2 separate regions of the Homo sapiens genome follow, and region 2 is linked to region 1. The links come from fine-mapping of genetic effects on gene expression. A gene starts in region 1. The other region holds a variant in brackets. All regions are shown on one strand. Distances are from middle to middle.

Evidence for each region. PIP is the estimated chance that this variant, and not a neighbour inherited with it, causes the effect.
Region 2: its variant is the best candidate, but not a certain one, in a credible set for the expression of EIF3K in whole blood (INTERVAL, PIP 0.50).

Annotation. Positions count from the first base shown.
Region 1 is chr19:38,617,581-38,620,592 of GRCh38, reverse strand. EIF3K (eukaryotic translation initiation factor 3 subunit K) reads right to left here and starts at 1,405. Exons shown (of 8, transcript NM_013234.4): 1 at 1,266-1,405; 2 at 158-256. The coding sequence starts at 1,324. MAP4K1 (mitogen-activated protein kinase kinase kinase kinase 1) reads left to right here and starts at 2,640. Exons shown (of 31, transcript NM_001042600.3): 1 at 2,640-2,796; 2 at 2,968-3,012. The coding sequence starts at 2,698. RefSeq lists an enhancer at 2,067-2,116.
Region 2 is chr19:38,676,458-38,678,957 of GRCh38, reverse strand. The region is part of intron 1 of ACTN4 (actinin alpha 4); the gene reads right to left. Among named protein-coding and RNA genes, the nearest start is that of ACTN4, 30 kb to the right of the region's middle. RefSeq lists enhancers at 510-569, 174-759, 1,176-1,335. The variant C/T (reference allele first, on the strand shown) is at 1,196.

The sequences.
Region 1 (3,012 bases):
TCCCTCCTCCTGTCCCAACTTCCTTGGCTTCCTAGTCTTGCACACCAAGAGATGCTGCATTGTTCAGGATACTACCAGCCACCCCCTTGCCCTGTACTGGGAGTGGCACCCTGCTAGTTGCTGCAATGGGAGTGTAGACAGAGAGCTAGACACTTACAGCTTCAGGACAGCCAGGTTGGCTTCCAGATCATAGGCATTTTCCTTGGCCTGCGTCTCTACATAGCGCTCCAGGGTGGCCAGGTTCTCAGGATTGTACCTAAAGGAGAATCAAGATAGGTGAGCACAGAGGAGACAGAAGCTGAGGCCAGCCACCTTATGGAGCAAGGGGCCACTGTAACCTGCTCCTCCCGCCCTTCCCCTCTAAATCTGGCACTGGCCACTTGCTCTATCCAGGTAGTGAATTATGTCCAGTATAATCTCTAGTAAAACTTATTCTTATCCCAGACCTCTCGCCTAAGCTCTAAACTCCACTGGAGCCCTGGCTCTTCCCTAGGATGCCTCCTCAACCTCTGAGCCAGTCAGTCACTGCAGCTTGTACACCTGGCCTCCTGAATGTCTCTGCTACTCACCCCTTCCTCCCCTGTTCAGGCCTCCACCCTGATCCAGCCCCATCCTCTCCTGCCTACCTCGCTGCCTACTTCCTCCATGTCCACCTGAACACTCTGGCCTTTGCTTCCCCCATTTCAGTTCTAATCTCTCCCGGCTATCGCTGTCTGCTGTCAGGTTTGTCTCCCTTATGGAAAGGGAACTCAGACCGTGAAGGCATGATCTGCCGCTGTCTGATTCGCCTGTGGTTCCCAGCATTGCCTAGCACTGACAGTTTATTTCAGTAAACGTGTGGAGAATGAATGACTTATAGAGCAGAGAAGGGAGAGATTAAGAGGCACTCAAAGGAGGCGGAGCAGAGAAGGAAACCTTAAGGCAATTTACGAAGAGACTGAGTGGTACCAAGATTCTCTCGCTTCTAGGCCTTTGCAGTGCTTTTGTTTCTTTCTTTTAGAGACGGGGTTTGGCTGTTGCCCAGGCTGGTCTCTAACTCCTGGGCTCAGGCGACCCACCTACCTCGGCCTCCCAAAGTGCTAGGATCACAGGCGTGAGCCACTACCCCCAGCTCAGTGCCGTTTCTTTAAGCATCTCCTCCTCCAGGAGGATAGAGAAACCCCACCCCGCGGCAAGCCCAGGACCCTGAACACCCCTTGCTGTCTCCGGAAAACCCTCTCCTCCGCCCCGCTTGGCCAGAGCGCTTCCTCCAACCGGGCTCAGACCTGTCGATACCCTTGAGCAACTTGCCCACGTTGGCTCTCATCTGCTCAAACATCGCCATGACTTCTGTCGCCTTCCACAACCAGGGCTGGAGGCTAACACTGACCCGGCACGGCGTCCTCAAGGACGGGAACAGGAAGAGGTGGTGGAAACGGAAACGACGTCGTTGTTGTCGCTCCAGCTCCTTGGGTGCGGTAAAGGGAAAGGCTCTAGCAGCAGCCGCCACGCTTTCCGGCTGCCACGTGACTTCTTCCTCGCAGGCGCAATTGGCGCGTGCGCATTCGCGCCACTCAAGCTGGACAGACAGCGTGAGAAAAATCTTACTGGATCCCAGTGCGCAGGCGCCTCTCGTGGCGAGGGGGCGGGGCTAAGCTTTTCCCGGGCCTCACAGACCCAGTTCCAGTGCCGGTAGCGCGGGAGCGTGCGCGCGCGAACTCACCGGGAAGCACCCGGAGCTCTGGCGGCGTGCGCGCGCGTTGTATTGCGCGCGGCCATGAGGCCACGGAGCTCTGCGGGAATGCACGCAGCAGCCTTACGTTTAGGCCATGGCCAAGTTCCGAGGGAGGTGTTCTGAGGTCCCTCTTGCCACAGGCCTGGGCGCCTGGTGCAGGATCCTGAGCTCTCCAGTTTCAAGTCTCAGCCCTTGGTCCCCAGCTCCAGGAGGAGGGTCCCACAAAGCTACTGTGCTCTGCCGGGCAGGGGCTGGGGTGAGGGCTCCTGGACTTCGCCGGATCGCGCCCCGTCTCCATTAGGTTCCGGTCTTGGAGCTGAGGGCGAGCGTCCCATTTGTACTGCCATGAATTATATATTATGTATAGGTTTTGTACACTGCAGGCCTACAAAATGCAGTTATGTGCCATGCATGTGGAGGTATATGTCCTGGGTACATCCACGTGTGTACTGTGCACACAGGTATCCAGGCAGATGCACGTCTACACGCCTGCGCAGTGCAGAGGAGGTAACCCAAGTGCATGTATGTGACAGGTGAACAGGCATGTACACTGCATAGCCATCCCTTTGCAGACCTGCCGCCTTCGGGTTGTGGCCAAACCTTCAAGCACCCAGCAGAGGTTTAGACACTACCTAGGAGACGGGGGCGGGGGTTCTAAGGCACCCCCCTCCAACCCAGTTACGATTAAGATCATTTGCATCACATTTACATCCAGCCCTGGGCCTTGGAGGTTGAGGGTGGTCCCTTGGGTCCCAAGACAAGCTGCCCCTCAGAGGCTCTCAGAGCCCAGGGGACGGGGGGGTGGAGCCCGTTGCACAGTCGTGCAGTGCAGCTGGGGCAGGAAGCGAGAGTGAGGAGGGGGGAGGCCACAGCCCGCGGAGGCAAGGCGGGTGCAGGGCTTCTGGGGACGGAGGGAGGTGCCAGAAGTTGAGCCCTGAGGCCCTGCTGGCCCCTGGGCGCAGGCCCAGCTCAGGCCCCCAGGGATGGACGTCGTGGACCCTGACATTTTCAATAGAGACCCCCGGGACCACTATGACCTGCTACAGCGGCTGGGTGGCGGCACGTATGGGGAAGTCTTTAAGGTGAGGAAGCCCCTCTGTCCCCAACACCCTACAACCAGTGACCTTTAAGGCAAGCCCTCGGCAGGGAGGAGGCTGCAAGAGGGGGTCCCAGTTCTTGACCTTGACTCAGGGATGCTGTGGAGGGACTCTGGCAAATGGAGCCTGCCTGACTGCCAACTTCCCCTTTGCAAGGCTCGAGACAAGGTGTCAGGGGACCTGGTGGCACTGAAGATGGTG
Region 2 (2,500 bases), 59 kb before region 1:
GCAAAGCAAAGCTGGGCCCCTTTCAAAGGCATATCAGAGCACACCCCACTACCATCAGATAAACAAGCCACCTCTTTCTTGCTTTTCTCCTCTCCTGTGGAACAAGGTTGCATTTAAAAGGAGAAACAGTCCCGGGTTTTGTCTCCGAACAGAGCGAGGTCCCAGGGGCAAGGACTTGGGGTAACACACAGTGGCTGATTCCACGGGATTGGTCACCACTGACAGCGAAGAAGGTGTGGAGGGACACAGGAGACAAAGCCCAAGCCCAAGCCAGACAGCAGAGAGAAAAAGGGTGGCTGTGTCGCCCTGGGTCCCATGGCCCGGAGAGAGCCAGGGAGCTATCAGATTCTGCTCAACCACACTGCGTATCCTCTATCTTTCTCTAGATTTTCCATGGTACTGACTTCTCTGCCGATGCCCCATAAATAACAATGGCCACCAAAGACAGCCTAGACTTCCCTTCCTTCCCTGGTATTGCAGGTCTCGAGGCTCAGCCCAATAAATGGAGACGAGTGGGCTGTCCCAGAACACAGCACCATAGTAAACCCAGCTGCAGGAAGGTGGCCAGCCAGTCAAACCACAGGGCTGTGTTCTTAGGTCTTTAGCTATCCCTAGAAACACTTTACTGTCGCTTTCACGATGTAAGTTAATTTTACCTGCAGGTAGCAATTTCTGTATAAAAAGGAAGTCTCAAAAAGGAAAAAACAAAAAGGTCTACAGCGTTTTAGCCACACGTATCATTTTTAAGGGCAAGGGCCTTCTCTTTGTCTTACTCACCTCTGTGTCCCTGCTGCCCGGACACAGGTCAATCCTAGCTCAGTAAACATGAGCACAAAATAGGATGAATTATCCTGTGCTAACGATGATTTTCCCACCTCTCCATGGGACAGTGATGTCTCCCTCTTCTGCCTACTTGCAAAGCATCCTGTTTGGCCAGGCGCGGTGGCTCACACCTGTAATCCCAGCACTTTGGGAGGCTGAGACAGGCAGATGACTTGAGGCCAGGAGTTTGAGACCAGCCTGGCCAACATGGTGAAACATTGTCTCTACCAAAAATACAAAAATTAGCCGGGTATGGTGGTGTGCACCTGTAATCCCAGCTACTTGGGAGGCTGAGGCAGGAGAATCACTTCAACCCGGGAGGTAGGGGTTGCACCCACTGCACTCCAGCCTGGGCAACACAGCGAGACTCCGT[C/T]TCAAAAAAGAAAAAGAAAAAAAAGAAAAGCATCGCATCCTGTTTGTGTTTCATATCTAGCAGGGACTGATGCAGAACTCAGGACAGCTGGCTGAACACTGGGCCTAGAAGTGTCCCAGGTGAGGACTTCTTATGACCTTCCAGAGCACACTTTTAGATGGGATGCAATGAGCCTGGCAGGGGTGAGTGGGGCCTGGGCGGTCATGATACCCTTGTCCTCAGAGGATGGACCATGGGTGATCCCTCTACTCCTAAAGCCAAGCAGAAAGACAGAATGGATCTGCCACTCATCCATCCAGCCACTTGTTTGAGTGTCTCGACAAGTGATGTCTCCATCTTCTGCCCACTTGAAAAGCATCCTGTTTGTGTTGTGGCAGATCCATTCTGTCTGTTTGGCTATCTATTCATTCAATACATATTTATTTAGTGCACACTTACATTTGCCTTGACAATGTCCCACATGGTAGGGACACAGTGGTGAACAAAATAGATTCTCTCTCTGCTCTCGTGACCCTCGAGAGGGAGAGCCAAGGATGGTTGGAGTTAAAAGGAGAAGTAGAGGTGATGGACATGCTCCTAACCTAGGCTGGAGGTGTCAGGTGCGACGGCCCTACAAATAGTGAAGCATAAACTGCCATCTGAAGAATGAGGAGGAGGTAGGTGGCGAGCTGAGGCGAAAGGGGCAGAGGCAAGGGCCCCGTGTGAAGTCCCTCAGGAGGCAGGAATGAGCATGGAGCAGAGAGGCAGCTGGCATGCGCCCGGAGCACAGAGAGGAGAAAACAGATCCTGCAGGGCCTTGGGGACTTGCAGGTTTGATCCTGAGGGCAAGGGACACTGATCAAGATGTCAAGCAGGATGTTCTTTGGCCCCTATGTGAAGAATAGATGGGAGTGAGTGGGGGGATGCAGGGAAACCCGCCAGGAGCTGTTGCTCGAACTTGGCATCAGCACCTGGGCCACTCTAGTTCTCCACTGGTGCTCCAGGAGCTAGAGCACCTGGTCATGCTCTTACAAAGGGACAATGAGGCTGCTTCAGGAGAAGCTGTGGGACCTCAGGGCTTCCTGAGATGAAAAGCTCCTACTCAGGCCTTTCCGGGCCTGTCTGTGGTAGAGAGCAGAAAGGCAGCCTGTTTACCTTCCACATCCGGCCCCAGAGGCCCTGCCCGGGTGGGAGGTTTCCCAGAGGGAAGGACACATGTGGTGTTCTGCAGGATGCAAAAGACCTCTGTAAGCCTCCTCCCGTGCACTCTGAGGCCCCCTGGCCTCCCTCAGCCACGTCTCCAGCCCAGTCGCAGGACACTGCTAT